Linked DNA regions of Homo sapiens. The protein of the gene in region 3 purifies or fractionates together with the protein of the main gene of each other region. This does not show direct contact. Each region holds a gene or a part of one and is shown on either strand. Other genes may lie near its edges. The genes, in order: CHM, TFCP2, RAB20 and RAP1GDS1.

Region 1 (4,570 bases), on a different chromosome or scaffold from region 3:
TCCAGCATTATAAAAATGAGGTAGAATATATCAGAATGCATGTAGTAAGGATGAATGTTGTTTTTTATATATATATGTATATATATATATATATATATATATATATATACACACACACCATATATATAACATATATATATATATACATAAACACACATACACACATATGTTTTTGGGGAGGGCAGGTTCAAAAAATTTAAAGCATAGAGTATATTGATCAGCTGAATGACATAGTGAGTAGGAGTGAAATGGTATTTCAAAAGTCCTTTCTTTGTTGTCTTCTCTTTTGTTCACCAGCTTGCATTATTTATCATTTGTTTTCCTCATAGTTTTTGGAACAGATTTAGTATCGGTCTTATTTGAGGTATAGTATGAAACACTCCGTTGTCAGCGTAAGAGATGCTATAGGAGTGAAAGATAGCCTGCAGATTTTGCTGTTCTGAAAAATGCTTTGCACTTCTTCAGGCATTTATTGATGGAAAAGTATGTTTTTGTTTGCTTCCAATACCTAGAAAAGTAAAGAGTTATCTAACTCTGGAGAAGACTCTCTGGGAGATGCTTACCCTTCTCTGTAAATCATGAATTTGAGCCAATACCTCAGAGAGAGCCACATCTGTTGCCATAATTTCCTCTGCAGCATCATTTTCATCTCCCATGCCTCATGTCATTTTTCTCATTTTCTCCAGTGTTTTCATGATGTTTTGGATAACAGGCTACAGTAATTAAATTCAAATATGGCAGCCCACCATTACATTCTCATGTTTAACATAAAATCCCAATGCACAGAAACAATTATAATTCCATATAATTGACCTGTTAACTCATGCTAAATCATCTGCTATTCAGTCTCAGTGCATTCTTTAACTAAAAAGTTAGTCTGTGCCTGTTCTGTATATAAATATATTTAAAAGTAAAATAGGCTAAAAATCACTGTTGGTGCTCATTGGAAACATTTTGGGGGCGTTTAGTTGTGGCCAGCAAAATAGGGATACATTGAAAGGTTGATGTTTTGTTTTTGCTTTTCTAATAATTTCATTTAAGGTTTGGTGTAAAAAGAGTTGATAATTTATCACAGATACTGCTTTTTTAGAGCATGATTATGAGAGCTAGCATGTTATCATATTGAGGGTGTTTTTGAAAAGAACAGTTTGCAAACAGACAGGAGAAGAGACCAGAGGCAGCTTGGCCAGTATGGTGCTTAAATAAGTGTTTCATCTCATACTGGATTTTATCAGGAGCTGAAGTTGGTAATGTATTCCTTGACTGATTTGGTTTTTATCACATTTTAAAAAGTACTGGTGAAGCAGGATATTTTCCTGACCCCTTCATGGGACTTGTGAAGGGAGCACCCTGTTTACTCAGCCCACCGCTTTCAACTCCTCATAGGAGGGAGCACGTGAGTGAACAAGGCAGGAACTGGAATACATGAGTGCTGGAGTCAGCCTGCCGCTCTTGTGCCAGGAGGAATGAACTCCACTCACTCGGACCTGCTGTGTTTCACCCCTCACAAGAGGGGATGTGCAGTTGAGTGGGTGCAGGAGCCGGGGCGAGTGCTTTTGGGCACTGGCAGGAGTCAACTCTGTGCTGGCCCTGTGGTAGCATCTCCGGGGGTGGTGCCTGCAACCCCTGAAGCTCCAGAGGGAATGTTACAGTGCTCTTTTAGCTCTGCTGTCCGCAGACGGCTTAAGGGTTAACAGCTCAGTGGGCCCTCTGCCTTTTTGTGTTAATCGGCTGCCTTCTACCAGTGAGGGCAAAGGGCAAGTGTGACAGCCTTTTTGTGTCCACACTCATCGTTCCCGAGCTCTTGTCCGGCATCCAGGAGAAATGAGGTCACATGAATGAATTGAAGGATGGTAAATGTAGGGGATCTTATTGCTGATGGAGATGGCTCTTAGTGGGAAGGGGAGCTGCAAAGGGCAGGAAGGTAGTCTTCCCCTGAATGCCAGCTGTCTCTGGCCAGATTCTTCTTCGAAGTTACGCTGTCAAGGTGTCCCTCTGAAGTCGAGCCACTTCTCTCTGATGTCCAGCTGTAGTCTCTAATGTCCAACTGCTTCTCTTCTCTCTGCTGGCTGAGCCTGGGGTTTTTATGTACACAGGATGGGGTGTGGGGTGGGCCGTAAGTGGTTTCGGAAAAGGCAACATTCGCACGGGAAAATGGGGATATAAGTTCTCACTTTGCGTCATGGTTTCAGGCTTGAGGGTGGGGTTTTCTCAGGGACCTGCCCTTTTCTGCCTAGAATTTCCCTGCCTCCTGTCCCTGTCACTCACTAACTTCTACTCTTTCTTTTGAGTATTCTCACCTGTCTTTTTTTTTTTTTTTTTTTTGGTCTAGGCCAGTGTTCTCATTGAGTTATTATGGCTACTAGTTAATGGTGGTTTTAATCATTTTATATTGCTTTGAAATGTTTTGAATCATGTTTCTGTGATCTGACTTTGCACATTTGTTAAACTAGTCTTATTTATGTGGATTTAAAATCATCATGAGAAAATTTACACAAGCTAAAGTATAGAGAAAAAGTTTTACACATGGATATGAGGCATATTAAGAAGATGCTGAGCTGTGAGTTCAAATCCTTATTTTCTACACCTGTGTTACTTTGGTTTAAGCTATGTAAGCAAAATCAATGATAATTAGAAAATTGTTTTTAGTACCTACAACACACTGTCAAACACATGAAAAATATTGTCTAACATTTGTTATATGCCAAGCACGGTGATAAGCCCCTACAATGCATTGTCTCATTTTCACAGTAACCCTGCAGTAGATACTATATCATCTCCATTTTTCAAATGTGAAGCCTGAGGCTCAGCTAAGTTTGATGTAGGTGAAACAGTTAAGACGAAAGTTTTTCTGACTAAGGTTGAGGTATTAGATTAAGTTTGCTAGAATCTTTCAATTGAAAAAATAGCTCATAGTATCAAGATGAGATTATTTTAACCTGGGTTTGTGGTTGGCAGTTGTTTTATTTTGGAGAGTTATCATTGTTGACATTAAAATCCTGATTCCAGCAGTAACCTCATGATGTCAGCTTCTTATTATTGACAGCATCATGACATCTGTGTCAGCTTGCAAACCTTCTTTTGATGAAGGTGAACGGAATGACCTGGTTGTGTTTATCCCTTAAAACTGAAGAGAGAATCAACCACTAAAGCAATGGCCAGAAATGGGATCAGAGATTACAGTTACATTTTAAGAAATGATTTGCTTCAGTAGGAATTCTTCATTGATCCTGTAAACCAAAATAATTTAGATTACCAAATTAATTTAGAAAGTTTATTTTACCAAGGTTAAGGATGCACCTGTGGCACAGCCTCAGGTCCTGATGACGTGCCCCAGGCGGTAGGGGCACAGCTTGATTTTACATGTTTTAGGGAGACATGAAACATTAATCAACGTTTGTAAGATGTATAATTCATTGGTTCCATCAGGAAAGGCCAGACAACTCGAAGTGGGGAGGAGGCTTCTGGGTCATAGTTAGTTAAGAGACAAATGAGGAATAGTCACTTATGCCTTAGTCTGTAGTGAAACAGTAGGGCGGAGGAAGCCATCAGATACGCATTTGTCTCATGGGAACAGAGGAATGACTTTGAGTTCTGCCTGTCCTTTGGTTGTCCACAAGGAATTTCCTTATGGGCAAATTGTGAGGGAGGTATGTAGCTTTTTAAAAATCTTTGTAGTGATCTTATTTAGGAATAGAAAGGGAGAGAGGTTTGCCCAACACAATTCCCAACTTGACTTTTCCTTTTGGTTTAGTGATTTTGGGGAGATTTGTTTTCCTTTCACAATCCCAAGGTACATAATTTCCCACTGAAATACTTGTGCATGTGCTGGGGTTTGCCATTTTGTGTCTTTTTTAGTGTTCTTCCAAATTAAATTTTCAAGATCAAATATGGGACTCATTGTCCTGTTTATGGAGCTTTTTTTCTTTTGGTTGACTATTCTTTTGTTTCCTACAGTCTTCAACAACTGTTAGTGCTTACAATGGATACATCATGCATCTTAATTGATAGGATGGATATGATAATACCTTTTTTGGTCCAAGGTCCCGCTCATTAAAAAAAATAGTTTATAAAGCTGAAAAGTTTTTATTTCTATTTTTTGTAAAATGATTTTCATGATAGGATTTTATATAAAGGGGAAGGGTTTTTTGTATCATTTTTATAACATTTTTGAAATGAATACTTATTCTCTTTCATCATCTATTTTAGACTCACAGTTTTATGAGTAATGCAGTAAAGGTCATGTGGCACATTAGTAAAATATGTTCTGAACACAGAAACTATTCTCCTTATCACAAATTAAATTTTATGTTAAGTTTGAAGAGCACTGGCCTGGGGTATACTTTGCTGTGAAAAGATCATTTTGGTCACTTAAATTACAATAGAAATATTTGTGTTAAGAAAATTAAGTAAAAATTAGGCTGGGCACAGTGGCTCACACCTGTAATTCCAGGACTTTGGGAGGCCTAGGCAAGTGGATCACCTGAGGTCAGGAGTTCAAGACCAGCCCAACCAACACAGTGAAACCCTGTCTGTACTAAAAATACAAAAATTATCCAGGCGTAGTGGC
Region 2 (4,570 bases), on a different chromosome or scaffold from region 3:
TTAGTCGGGTGTGGTGGCGTGTGCATGTAGTCCCAGCTACTTGGGAGTCTGAGGCAGGAGAGTCACTTGAACCCGGGAGGTGGAGGTTGCAGTGAGCCGAGATCGTGCCACTGCACTCAAGCCTGGGAGACAGAGTGAGACTGTCTTAAAAAAAAAAAAAAAATCACTGGATTCCTGACTTCTGATCTTTTGGGGGAATATTTTTTTTTCTTTTGAGATGGAGTCTCGCTCTGTCTCCCGGGCTTCAGTGCAGTGGTACGATCTTGGCTCACTGCAACCTCCACCTCCCAGGTTCAAGCAATTCTCCTGCCTCAGCCTCCCAAGTAGCTGGGACTAGGCGCGCGCCAACGCGCCCGGCTAATTTTTGTACTTTTAGTGGAGACGGGGTTTTACCATGCTAGCCAGGCTGGTCTCAAACTCCTGACCTCAAGTGATCTGCCCCCCTTGGCCTCCCAAAGTGCTGGGATTACAGGCATGAGCCATACCGTGCCTAGCCAAGGGAATCTTAATTGTTTCTTTTATTTCATGTACCCTGTTCCTTTTCTTTTGTACCCAGAAGTACTCTGTGGCCTATATATATTTTTTCTTTTTTAAAAAAAACTTTACTGTGGAAAATTTCAAACATATACAAAGTAAACAGAATAATATGATGAACCCTCTTGTACTCATCACCTTGCTTTAACATGTTACTACTCTTTTTACCTTTTTTTTTTTTTTTTTTTTGAGACACAGTCTCGCTATGTCGCCCAGGCTGGAGTGCAGTGGCACAATCTCGGCTCAAGTGATTCTCGTGCCTCAGCCTCTGACATAGCTGGGATTACAGATGTGTGTCTCCACACCCATCTAATTTTTGTATTTTTATTAATAGTAGAGATGGGGTTTCACCATGTTGGCCAAGCTGGTCTTGAACTCCTGGCCTCAAGTGATCTGCCTGCCTTGGCCTCCCAAAGTGCTGGAATTACAGCCGTGAGCCACCACACCTAGCCCTCTTTTATTATTTTTACTTCTACCTATTCCCCATCCTCTAATCAATAATTTTTTTTTTAGGTAAAATTCATATACAATGAGATGCAAAAATAAGCTGTTACAGTTACAACCACGTAGCAGACCTATCATAGTATAATACATTTTTATCTCCCTACAAAGTTCCCTTATATACCTTCCAAGTCATCCCCTGCCCCACCAGGAAACCATTGTTCTCTTTGGCTCTGCCTGTTTTAGACTGTCATATAAACAGAACCATGCATTACACATTCTTTGTGTCCGGCTTTTTTTGTCGAGCATTATATCTGTGAGATTCATCCGTGTTGCATTCCTTTGTTTCACTGAGTAGTCCATTGTATGGATATACCATGGTTTGTACATCCGTTCTCTTACTCATGAACATTTAGGTTCTTTCCAGTTTTTATTTTTTTGTTGTTGTTGTTGTTCTTTTTTTTTTTTTTTTTTTTTTTTGAGACAGAGTCTTGCTTTGTTGCCCAGGCTGGAGTGCAGTGCCACGATCTCGGCTCACTGCACCTCTGCCTCCTGAGGTCAAGTGATTCTCCTGCCTCAGCCTCCCAAGTATCTGGGACCACAGGCATGCGCCACCACACCCAGCTAATTTTTGTAATTTTGGTAGAGACAGGGTTTCACCATGTTGGCCAGGCTGGTCTCAAACTCCTGACCTCAGGTGATCCACCCGCCTCGGCCTCCCGAAGTGCTGGGATTACAGGCGTGAGCACCTGGCCTAGTTTTTGCTTTTATGCTGTGAACATTTATAACAAGTCTTGGGTGGACTTACATTTTCATTTTTCTTGGATAAGTACCAATGGGTGGAATTGCTGGGTCAATAGATGCATGGTTAATTTAATTTAATTTTTTTAATTAATTTTTTTTTTTTGAGATGGAGTTTCGCCTTTGTTGCCCAGGCTGGAGTGCAGTGGCACCATCTCGGCTCACTACAACCTCCACCTCCCGGGTTCAAGCAGTTCTCCTGCCTCAGCCTCTTGAGTAGCTGGGATTACAGGCATGCGCCACCACTCCCAGCTAGGTTTGTATTTTTAGTAGAGACAGGGTTTCGCCATGTTGGTCAGGCGGGTTTCCACCTCCGGACCTCAGGTGATCCGCCCACCTCGGCCTCCCAAATTGCTGGGATTACAGGCATGAGCCACTGTGCCTGACTGCATGTTTAATTTTATAAAAAACTGCCAAACCTTTTCCTAAACTGTTTTATGTCATTGTACATTGCTACTGACAAAAGGATGAGAGTGTGGTTTTACATTCCCACTGACAAAGGATGGGTATGTGTCTTTGGTTTGCAAGTTTAGATAAACTGATAGATACAAAAAGCTTTTTCTTAGAGGAAATGGCTTGTAGGAACATCTCAATATTAGTTGTTATTCCACAGAATGTAAGATGACCTTGAAATATATACTCGTTATTGATTTGTCCTTTTCACGTGGCTTCTAAGGAATTGTAGAAGTTATTTTAGTCCTTATAGTAAATCAGCTGATATGGTTATATAGATAGTATAGTTGTTGCCTTTCTGAGAATGAAGACGTTACTGAATGTCCTAGATTTATACATTTTAGAACTCTGTTTATAATTTCCACAGTCCTTTTAGGAACCCCTGTCTATGATTCCTAGAAACATTCTCTTTAACACTTAGTGGTTTTAGCAGTGAATATCTGTCATCACCCACACTGTTGTGGTCAGGGGGATATCACAGCAGGTAATCTAAATGGAATTCTTGGGATGAAACTCCACCAAGGTGAGTAATGTTTATGGCTTTCCAAAGCATTGCAGTTAAATCATTCAGCAATAAACCTGCGTTTGCACCATTGCCAGGTATTAATGTGAGTCATTTGTTTTATTTTAGTGATGTCCTTGCATTGCCCATTTTTAAGCAAGAAGAGTCGAGTTTGCCTCCTGATAATGAGAATAAAATCCTGCCTTTTCAATATGTGCTTTGTGCTGCTACCTCTCCAGCAGTGAAACTCCATGATGAAACCCTAACGTATCTCAATCAAGGTTAGATGCTTCCTCATTCATTAGTACTATTGCAGACCTACTGTATTTATGATTTTTTTGTTTGTTTGTTTGTTTTGAGACGGCGTCACCCAGGCTGGAGTGTAGTGGCGCCATCTTGGCTCACTGCAAGCTCTGCCTCCCGGGTTCACACCATTCTCCTGCCTCAGCCTCCTGAGTAGCTGGGACCACAGGCACCCGCCACCACACCCGGCTAATTTTTTTGTATTTTTAGTAGAGATAGGGTTTCATCGTGTTAGCCAGGATGGTCTCGATCTCCTGACCTCATGATCCGCCTGCCTTGGCCTCCCAAAGTGCTGGGATTACAGGCGTGAGCCACCGTGCCCGGCCATTTATGATGTTTTATTAGGTACACTTATATGTAAAAACTTAGATCTTTCTAGTGTGGCCTATCAAACTAGAAGTCCTACTTCAGAGATTTGAGTTCTAATGTCATACTTGATATCTATTACTAGCTTCTTTTGCTTAGCTGTCCATTTTTAGTGTCCAGCTTCCTCTTCCTAATCATATTCCCTAGACACTCCCATTGGTTACTGTCTGAGAAGTATTACTCTACCTGGCTCTATTATTTACCAATTGTGTGGCCTTGGACAAGTTGCTAAAACTCTTTTAAGTTTCAATTTCTTTGTCTGTAAAATGGGATTGATAATACCTTAGAAAAGTATATCAGTTAAATGAGATAATGTGACAATACTTAGCACAGTGCTGAGCATCTTGTAAAGGCTTCTGATTGTTGTTACTAATACTAATAATATTATTATACTGTTGTATATTCAACCAACTGAATTTTATTCTTTCCGAATCTAGCAAAGTTAATTTGTGGTGAATATAATATGTAATTACTTTTTCTTCTAGGACAGTCTTATGAAATTCGAATGCTAGACAATAGGAAACTTGGAGAACTTCCAGAAATTAATGGCAAATTGGTGAAGGTAAAACGAATAAATCATTCTTCTGTACAATATTTTTTACTAATCCTTTTGGGATTTTAAATTTTGTTGTTGTTGTTAATGTTCTTTTGCTTCCAATGGCTTAATGGTATCTCTTGCCTGCAGTAATTTGTTGGCAGAGTAGTAAGCTGATGTGTTATTTCTTTGGGGTCAGAGTAAGCCCCAGTATTCACATGAATTTTTCAGAGCTGCAGAAATAGAACGCTTACCACTCCCTGTCCAGGGTAATCACCCCTGGCTCAGTGAAGTTCTTTTGGGTGGAGTAAAGTAACCTCCTTGAGATCTTTAGAGAAGCCTCAGTGTCTTTTTTGATACTTAGTCTTATAGCAAGGAAAACAGAAGCTACTTTGATGAAGAGCAGTTCTCTTAGTCTAGATTAACAGTTAGGATTTTGATAATTCACAGCACAGTTGAAACAGAGGAGTTTTGTCAAAAGGTGGTGGGAGGAATTAATAGGCACTTCTACAAAGTAAGAGTAACAAAAGGAAAGTTGATGGAAACAGGCTCTACCTACCCTCAGTGTTTACAGGTTGTATGGTGGGTTAGCAAGCGGGGGAGTTGGTGAGTTTTTCATATACATCTGAAGAGCT
Region 3 (4,570 bases):
TGGCCTATTGTATCACAGCACTCAGGACAATGATATTTCCACACTAATTTTATCATTCAGGGTCAATACATCGCTAAGAAAATGAAACTGCTAATGTCAGTCTGTGAATTTTCCCCACTGCTTTCAAAAGTTTCCTTCAGCAAAAACTTAGTTTCAAAAATATCACAGAGCAAAACATTACATTCTATGGAAAACTCCAAGTGAGTAAAACCCAAGGAGTTTATAAATCCAAGGAAAGAAAAAGAGATCAGAAAAACAGACAACCAGCAGTATGTACTATGGGGTGCAAGGTCACTTTGTAGCAGTTTGGTGGAAGGAGGAATTCTTCCCTCTGCTACAAAGACCAAGAAATGCTTCACTGAAAGATGGGATAAAATTCAAGCTGGGCATGGCCAGAGACGCTGTAAGCACCTGTGAGAACCGAGCAAAGACAGGGCACACAGGACGAACTGCAAATCGTACATCAGGGCTCAAGTGCCAGCAGGCAGATAAGAGGAGTGATAAGCTGGGGAGTGCTGGAGGGGCTCTGAGCAGGGAAGGTGACCAGATCCAGGAGGCCTGGCAGAAAGACCCCTCAGTGAGGTGCAGAAGAGACAGCACCAGGGAAGCCAGGGTTGAAACGAAGCTGGAACCTGCCTGGGCCAGCGTTCGCGGCCAGCTGGACCATGGAACTCTGTCGTCGCAGTGATGAATCCATTATCCTAAGAATCAACAGCTGTTTAGGCGTGTGTGTTTGTACGTGTGTGTATGTTTGTACAAAATTTATTTTTCTTGGAGAGGGATGTTATATGAAGTCTCAATACAGAAAGAAGGGCAATTTGATCTGGCATCATAAATTTTCAGCCAGGCATGGTAGCTCATGCCTGTAATCTCGGCACTTGAAGAGAACAAGCAGGGACGATATCTTGAGCCCAGGAGTTCAAGACCAGCCTGGGCAACATACTGAGACCCCTGTCTCTACAAAAAAAAAAAAAAAATACAAAAATTAGCTGGGTGTGGTGGTGCTGTAGTCCCAGCTGAGAGGTGGGAGGACTGCTTGAGCCCACGAGGTCAAAGCTGCAGTGAGCCAAGATCACAGCATTGCATTCTAGTCTGGGTGACAGAAGACGACCCTGTCTCAAAAAATAAATAAATAAATAAGACGGGCGCGGTAGCTCACGCCTGTAATCCCAACACTTTGGGAGGCCACGGTGGGTGGATTGCTTGAGGTCAGGAGTTCAAGACTCGCCTGACCAACATGGTGAAACCCTGTCTCTACTAAAAATACAAAAATTAGCCGGGCATGGTGGTGGGCACCCATAATCCCAGCTACTCGGGAAGCTGAGGCAGGAGAATCACTTGAACCCAGGAGGCAGAGGTTGCAGTGAGCCGAGATCGTGCCAGTGCACTCCAGCCTGGGCAACAGAGTGAGACTCTGTCTCAAAAAAAAAAAAAAATTAAAAATAAATAAATAGGGCCAGGCGCAGTGGCTCACGCCTGTAATCCCAGCACTTTGGGAGGCTGAGGCGGGTGGATCACAAGGTCAGGAGATCGAGACCATCCTGGCTAATATAGTGAAACCCCGTCTCTACTAAAAATACAAAAAATTAGCTGGGCGCGGTGGCGGGCGCCTGTAGTCCCAGCTACTCAGGAGGCTGAGGCAGGAGAATGGCGTGAACCCAGGAGGCGGAGCTTGCAGTGAGCCAAGACCATGCCACTGCACTCCAGCCTGGGGGACAGAGTGAGACTCCATCTCAAATAAATAAATAAATAAATAAATAAATAAATAAATAAATAAAAATTTCTATTTCTCCAGAGAGCTTAAAGATAACAAAGCATGAAATTGTCTCCCAAAGGCATTCAGTGTGACTCAGGTGCTCGTTAACAAACACAGTTGACCTTAATTAAGTTTCTCCTGAACCACAGTGCACTAAAGAGCCTGCAAGGTCCCCTGGCACCCCAGGATTCCCAGGCGCCACTCCAGGAGGCTGTGGGCCGAGCCTCCCAGCGCACACTGCTCGCAAGCGGCCACTGTGCTCTGCAATCTCCGAGTATAATGTCGCTTTGTCCACTCCTGCTGAGGCCAGGACAACCAATTAATTCTCTTTCCCCCATCTTAATACCCACATTCATATTCAGGCCACTGTTGCTGGTCAATAAAGCAGAGGGACTCTACAAATGAGGCCTTGCACCCAGAAGGCACCTGTTCGAAGTCCTCAGTAGAGGTGACCATGTGGACCCACATGTGCCTGGGGTTTTGCAGGTTGACCTTCCAGATACAAACCTTAACTGGCATTTCTTCCAAGATCTTTTGTTCAGTAGGAGCTGGTGTTCATCTTAAATCCACCCTCACTCCACTCTAGCTCAGTACACACACACAGTAGAAACTTGAGAGCTGCTTGTTGAGTTGAACTGAATCTTGGTGTCCTACAACTGCTGAATATTAAACCTTTTTAGAAGCGTCTATACCTATGGGAACAGACTTTTAGAGAAGCATTGTCTCCTTTACACAACCCAACCAGGGATCAGCAAATGTTTTCCGCAAAGGGCCAGATAGTAAATATGTTTGGCTTTCGGTGCTGTCTGGTCTCTGTTGCAATGACTCAACTCTGCCATTACAAGGTGAAAGCAGCCATAGACAATGCATTTAAGTGCATGCATGTGCATGTGGCTGTGCCAATAAAACTTTATTTACAACAACCAGCAGCAGGCCTGCGTCAGGCCCCAGATCTGTAGAAAGACCATGTGATTGACCAAATGGTCTCCAGTCACACAAACACTAATTGTCAGGCTGAGGGTCACCATATTAAGGCCTCAAAAACCACTCAGAAGCCTCTCCCGACTGAGGCTAAAATAGAAACTAATGTAATAGGAAAGCCAGCTAAAATCTGACTCCTGGCTGGGCGCAGTGGCTCATGCCTGTAATGCCAGCACTTTGGGAGGCCAAGGTAGGAAGATCACTTTAGCCCAGGAGTTCAAGGCCAGCTTGGGCAATGTAGCAAGACCCCGTCTCTACAAAAACAAAAATTGTTTTTTTAAATAAGGGTGCACACCTGTGGTCCCAGCTACTCAGGAGGCTGAGGTGGGAGGATTGCTTGAGCCTGGGAGTTTGAAGTTACAGTGAGCTGTGGTTACCCCACTGCACTCCAGCCTGGACAACAGACCAAGACCTTGTCTCAAAAAAATTAAATAATTATATAAATAAATAAAATCCCCCTGGCTCCACGTGTTTTGCAGGCTGTGCATTCACTTTTGCACCAATCTCTCAAGGCTTTTAAAAAATGTGCAGTCCTCACACAAGTCAAAAGTGCCGAATGTCAGCCAGCCATGGGGTCCCTGCCAAAGAGAGCTGCTCTCCAGGCCCACCCACAGCATCATCACAATTCCAACCTGAAGCAGCAACACATATGACACAGCCTCCACCCCATTCCGTTAGGAGCAGCTGTCATGTGGCTGGGGGCTGAGGTTTGTGTGTGGACTGGAAGGAGAGAGGTGGGGGCTCGCGGTCCTCTGAGCTGAACTCTCCCTCTCATTCGGCACCTTCACCCACAAGCCACCTTTGTCCTTCACAAAAGCCACCTGGGCTCTGCCTCAGACAGACAGCAGTTCACAGCATGCAGGCCAATCTCTTAGCTAACTTCACGGGAACGAGCACTTACATTCTCCCTCCTCCAGGCCCAAGATTTCATAACCAGAAACTCCAGCATCCTCTCCTGGGCTGCACTGCAGTTGTTCAGGTAAAGAGAAAGCTCTTAAACCAATTGCTCAGAATCTTGCCTGGGGCTTAGGAAAGAGCCTGCATGAGCGAAGCAGCATCTTCATTTGCTGCAGAGCCCAGCCTGGGTTCACAGCACCTCTGAGGCCAGAGAGGGCCTGGAGAACCTGAGATCCTAAACCCATCACGAGCCTTTCCTTGAAAAATCCTTGCATTTCGGCTTGGGAGGGAGGGACCTGATCCACTGAGAAACCCGTACTCTAGGTCCTGAGCCAAGCAGCATCCAGACCTTGGGTTCCCAAGGGCAGGAAGACCAAGCTGTGAAGCTGAGCGGCCCTGGCACCGTGTCAGGGAGCGACTGTGGGAGCCGCCTCCCCTCTGTAAGATGCTGCTTCCCAGTCTGTAGGACGGCAACGTTGACGCCTCCCAGGAGGAGCCTTGTGAAAAGGATGTAGCCCGGGAGTATGGAGCCTGCACAGAGCCTGGCACGTGGCAGGGACCCACATACAGTGGCAATTACTGTAAGTGTTGGAAGCACGAGTTTCGGAGGCAGCCCGTCCTGTTACACACAGGCCACACCTGCTCTCCCACCACAAACCTCCAACTACTCTAACGCGCCGGAATAGAACTCAAATGAGGCTTGAATTCCTCTTCCACGTGACAACCTTCCAACACTCAAAAACTTCCTGGGACTGGGGCTCCAGTCCTCTCCATTCCACACCACAGAGTCCCCCATTTTCTCAGTCCTGCCTTTTGTCACACAGATTCCAGGGCCATTGCACCCTGATCCCTTCTCAGGTGGCTCAGCCATCAGCATCCTCTAAAGAGGCCAGAGGCTGGGCCCATCTCTCTTCCACATCTTTGCCGTCCACCCGT
Region 4 (4,570 bases), on a different chromosome or scaffold from region 3:
AATCTTTGGCAAATTGTTGAACTTAAAGCCACCTATTATTTTCAACTTTTGAACCTGAAGATATAGTCTTCATCTGAACAAACATTTGGGTTGGTACATATTATCTAGTTGGGGGATAAGCAGAAACAGAAAGGTATAATTGTACCATGCCTCCCAGTACACTGTAGGTTGGTTTTGAGTCAACCTCAGGCAATCTGTTTCCTTCTAAACTCTCTTCAATGGTAAGGCAGTTTCATGTATGATCAGTAGGTACATATGATAATTTAAAATTGAAACCTTGGGGAACAGTTTTATATCTGGGCCAAGGAAGTTAGTATAACAATTCATGTACACATAAGAAGGTAGAAGGTATACTGGTTAATGATGAGGGGAGGGAGAAGTGCTTTTTAATTTGTCTCAAGAAATAAATAAGGTTGATTTTTAAAGATAGTCTCAGCCGGGCGCGCACTTTGGGAGGCCGAGGCGGGCGGATCACCTGAGGTCAGGAGTTGGAGACCAGCCTGACTAACATGGTAAAACCCTGTCTCTACTAAAAATACAAAAAAACAATTAGCCGGGTGTGGTGGCGGGCGCCTGTAATCCCAGCTGTTTGGGAGGCTGAGGCAGGAGAATCACTTGAACCCGGGAGGCGGAGTTTGCAGTGAGCCGAGATCATGCCATTGCACTCCAGCCTGGGCAACAAGAGGGAAACTCTGTCTCAAAAAAAATATATATATATATTCTCATGGCAATAATTTCCTACACAAGAGAGTGAAAGAAAAGTCCTATATAACTTTATGGCCATAGCTACTATTTTATGTATATGTCATATTTCAGATTCAACATACATTTAGTGTTTGTTGGATATCAACTGTGCAGTGTACTGTACTACAGTGTACTGGGAGGACAAAGATAAAAAGATATTCATGTTTCACATTTATAATCTTAGCAGGAACAATATGACACATACACAAATTATAATAGAAGTAAAAGTATAAGTTATATAAAAGACCTTTACATATATTATAGATTCAGAGAATGGAGAGAACGTTTTAGAGAAATGGTGTTATTTGAACCAAAGGTGGGTTAAACTTCTTAAAGGTAGAAATGAGACTGTTAATCAGAATGGAGTTGGTCTGGGGTTGGAAGAGAAATGACATAAATGAAGATAGATAGGAAACATTTTATGAATTTCCAGGATATGATTAAACAGCATTGTTTGGCTAGAGCAAAAGGTAAGGAAATAGTGGGTAACAGACATGAAAAAGTAGTACAGTAATAGCTAATGACCAGATAATGTAGGATCTAAAATGCCAAGCTGAAGAATTTTAATCTGACTTACCTATTGAGAGACCACTAAACATTTTTATGTAGTTAAGTGATGGATCACATCTGTGGTATAGGAAAATTTGTCAGTTGAGTGCAGGATCGATTAGATGAGAAACTACAGAACACTTCAGAAGATTGTTGTTGGAGTTTGGACGAAAATGTTTAATGGCTTGAACCAGGTTATGGCAACGGGAATAGAATATTGCAAATAAAGAATAGGATTTACTTGGCAACCCATTGAGTATGGAATTGAGAGTCACAGGTTTTAGCCTGGGTGATAATGAGGATACGAGAATCTCCTGATACATATTCAGTTAACAGGAAGAGGAAACTTAGATACTCAATTTTGGACCTATTGCATTAGACTTTTTGGTCTGTCCTTTAGTCTCTGCTCCTTGATAACAAGGACGTTGTCATATTAGGATTTGAATACATTTCTAACACTAGTGTCTGGCACATAGTAGCTACATAGAAAAATTGTGTTGACTGACTGAAACTAGATAAAAAATAGTTGACAAACATTTATTTTAACTTTCGAGAGTACAATTTGAATTAGAGATCTGGAAGTTATCCACAAATATCCTGAGGTGATATTTGAAGTTAGATCAGAGGACAAGAGTCAACAAAGAAAAAGAGGAAAATTGTTCATGGTAAGAATCTTGAGGAATGGGGTTCCTTAAGTTTTCCGTAGTTAGGGAAAAAGGAATGGTATGATTTCACACTGAAAAACACAGAAGTCAGAGTGAAAGACTAGAATTGGTATATGGTTGGTTTTAAGAAAGAGTGAATAGTTAATAAGGTCTGTTTTTTCAGAACAGTCAGGAGGGTGATAGGGACTGAGAACAGGCTCTAAGTGCTTTGGTTAGGATATTACCCAGTATATTTTTCTAAAAAGCCACTTTAAGAGGTTTAGTAGATATGGAGGTCAGTTGTAAAGGCTAAGTGAATAATAAGTGGAAACAGTTCACTAGGTATAGTCATGCTGTATTTCTCACCTTGTTTAAAGATCTGTGAGAAAACATAGATTTTTAAAAATATTTTTAACTCACTCTGCATGACAGATATTACATTTTAGAAAATATTTTAAAATTTTAAATGTATTTTAATTTACAAATTAAAAAAATTATTTTAATGTTACATTTTACATGGAAGGACATGTGCTGTTTTCATGTCTAAGGATAATTTTTAATTTCACCATAGTGCCTCACATTTCTCTGACATTTCATTTTTAATGTCTTTGTGACTTAGTATAGTACAATTTTTATTTTTATAATGTCTGTCATGCAGAGTGAGTCTAGAATGATTTTATAATTTTGCATGGCATTTTGCCTAAACAATACTCTTTACTGATGAATGGTTTTATCACTTTTACTCTTAGACTTTGTGAATTTGAGACTTCTTTAGATTATAGGTATGCTTCTAATTATATTTTTAATTCCTGGAGTTGTAGTTTTCTCTGTAGATAGGTATCAAACTTATAGTCATTTTATTTTGCCTGTATTTCCAAGTCCAGGAATGGTTTTCATAGCTAAATAATAAATACTAATTTTGCCTGATCTTTGCAAGTCTAGGCAGGGTGATAAAATATTTTTGAAAGCTGGTAATTACTAAAATTTATGATTTCAAAAAAGCATAGATGCTAGCTTGGTAAATTTAAAAATTTTTCTTATGTTGGCATTATATCTGTTTTGTATATGTCTTTTTTCATATGGGAGAAAGGTTGAATTCACTATCCTTGGTAGTCATATTCTGAAGTCTGTACTACTACTATTTGAAAAATTATAATAGCCTTAACTCTTTTTAAGAACCAAAATGATTTTGCTTTCATAGTGGAATCTTGGAATTTCTAGGTGACTTTGGGGAAATAGTGTGGATGCTCTCCAGAAATTCCTGATTGAACCTGAGATTGAACATAGCAATTCTGGAGTTATTGGTGGCACTAACAACAGCCATCAGAATTACCTAAATTTTAATATCCAGTCATGAACATCAGGAGGAATGAAGGAGGAAGATTCAGTCCTTTGGGAACCTGATGTAATTTTAGATAGCCAAATGTTTGGATAACTGATAAGGAAAAAGTTTAATTTAAAATACATGTTGATGTTGAGTTCAGTTTGCCAGTATTTTGTTGAGGATTTTTCTATTTATGTTTATTAAGGATATTAGCTTGTAGTTTCTTTTCTTGTAGTATCATTGTCTGGCTTTGGTATCAGGGTAATGCTGGCCTCATTAAATGAGTTTGGAAGTATTTCCCTTCATTGTTTGGAAAGAGTTTGAGGAGGATTGGTATTAGTTCCTTTTTTAAAATAATTTCAACTTTTAGTTTAGGTTCAGAGGGTACATGTGCATGTTTTTTACATGGGCATGTTATGTGACACTTTGGAGTATGAATAATCCCATCACCCAGGGGTTTGGAGTATGAATAATCCCATCACCCAGGTAGTGTGCATGGTACCCAGTGGGTAGTTTTTCAGCCCTTGCCTCCCTCCATTTGTCCCCCTCTAGTAGTCCCCAGTATCTGTTGTTCCCATCTTTATGTCCATATGTACACCCAGTGCTTAGCTTCCGCTTATAAATGAGAACATGTGGTATTTGGATTTCTTGTTTCTATGTTAATTTGCTTAGGATAGTGGCCTCCAGCTCCATCCATGTTGCTGCAAAGGACATGATTTCATTCTTTTTTGTGGGTGCATAGTATTCCATGGTATATATGTGTCACATTTTCTTTATCCAATCCACTATTGATAGGCACCTGGGTTGTTTTCATGTCTTTGTTATTGTGAATAGTGCTGCGATGAAGATCCAAGAGCATGTGCCTTTTTGGTAGCATGATTTATTTTTCTCTGGAAATATACCCAGTAATGGGATGGCTGGGTCAAATGGTAGTTCTGTTTTAAGTTCGTCGAGAAGTCTCCAAATTGCGTTCCACAGTGTCTGAACTAATTTATATTTCCACTAACAGTGTAAAAACATTCTCTTTTCTCCACAGCCTTACAGCATCTGTTTTTTGTTTGTTTGTTTTTACTTTTTAATAATAGCCATTCTGACTGGTGTGAAATGGTGTCTCATTGTGGTTTGATTTGCAGTCTCATCACATTAAGAGGATCATACGTCATGATCAAGTGGGATTTATCCCTGGGATGCAAGAATGGTTGAACATACACAAATCAATAAATGTGATACACCACGTTAACAGAATGAAGAACAAAAATCATACGATCATCTCAGTTGATGCAGAAAAAGCATTTGACAAAATTCAACA

Evidence for each region.
Region 1: the proteins of RAB20 (region 3) and CHM purify together in Homo sapiens (co-immunoprecipitation; 2 studies listed by BioGRID and IntAct, with this or other methods). This does not show direct contact.
Region 2: the proteins of RAB20 (region 3) and TFCP2 purify together in Homo sapiens (affinity purification with mass spectrometry; one large-scale study listed by BioGRID and IntAct). This does not show direct contact.
Region 4: the proteins of RAB20 (region 3) and RAP1GDS1 purify together in Homo sapiens (co-immunoprecipitation; 2 studies listed by BioGRID and IntAct, with this or other methods). This does not show direct contact.

Annotation. Positions count from the first base shown.
Region 1 is NC_000023.11:86,037,266-86,041,835, reverse strand, and holds part of CHM (rab proteins geranylgeranyltransferase component A 1), read left to right. Parts: intron 1-4,570. UniProt on the Homo sapiens protein: Substrate-binding subunit of the Rab geranylgeranyltransferase (GGTase) complex.
Region 2 is NC_000012.12:51,117,063-51,121,632, reverse strand, and holds part of TFCP2 (alpha-globin transcription factor CP2), read left to right. Parts: intron 1-2,860; coding exon 2,861-3,012; intron 3,013-3,885; coding exon 3,886-3,962; intron 3,963-4,570.
Region 3 is NC_000013.11:110,550,958-110,555,527, forward strand, and holds part of RAB20 (ras-related protein Rab-20), read right to left. Parts: intron 1-4,570. UniProt on the Homo sapiens protein: The small GTPases Rab are key regulators of intracellular membrane trafficking, from the formation of transport vesicles to their fusion with membranes.
Region 4 is NC_000004.12:98,263,698-98,268,267, forward strand, and holds part of RAP1GDS1 (rap1 GTPase-GDP dissociation stimulator 1), read left to right. Parts: intron 1-4,570. UniProt on the Homo sapiens protein: Acts as a GEF (guanine nucleotide exchange factor) for the Rho family of small GTP-binding proteins (G proteins) that stimulates the dissociation of GDP to enable subsequent binding of GTP.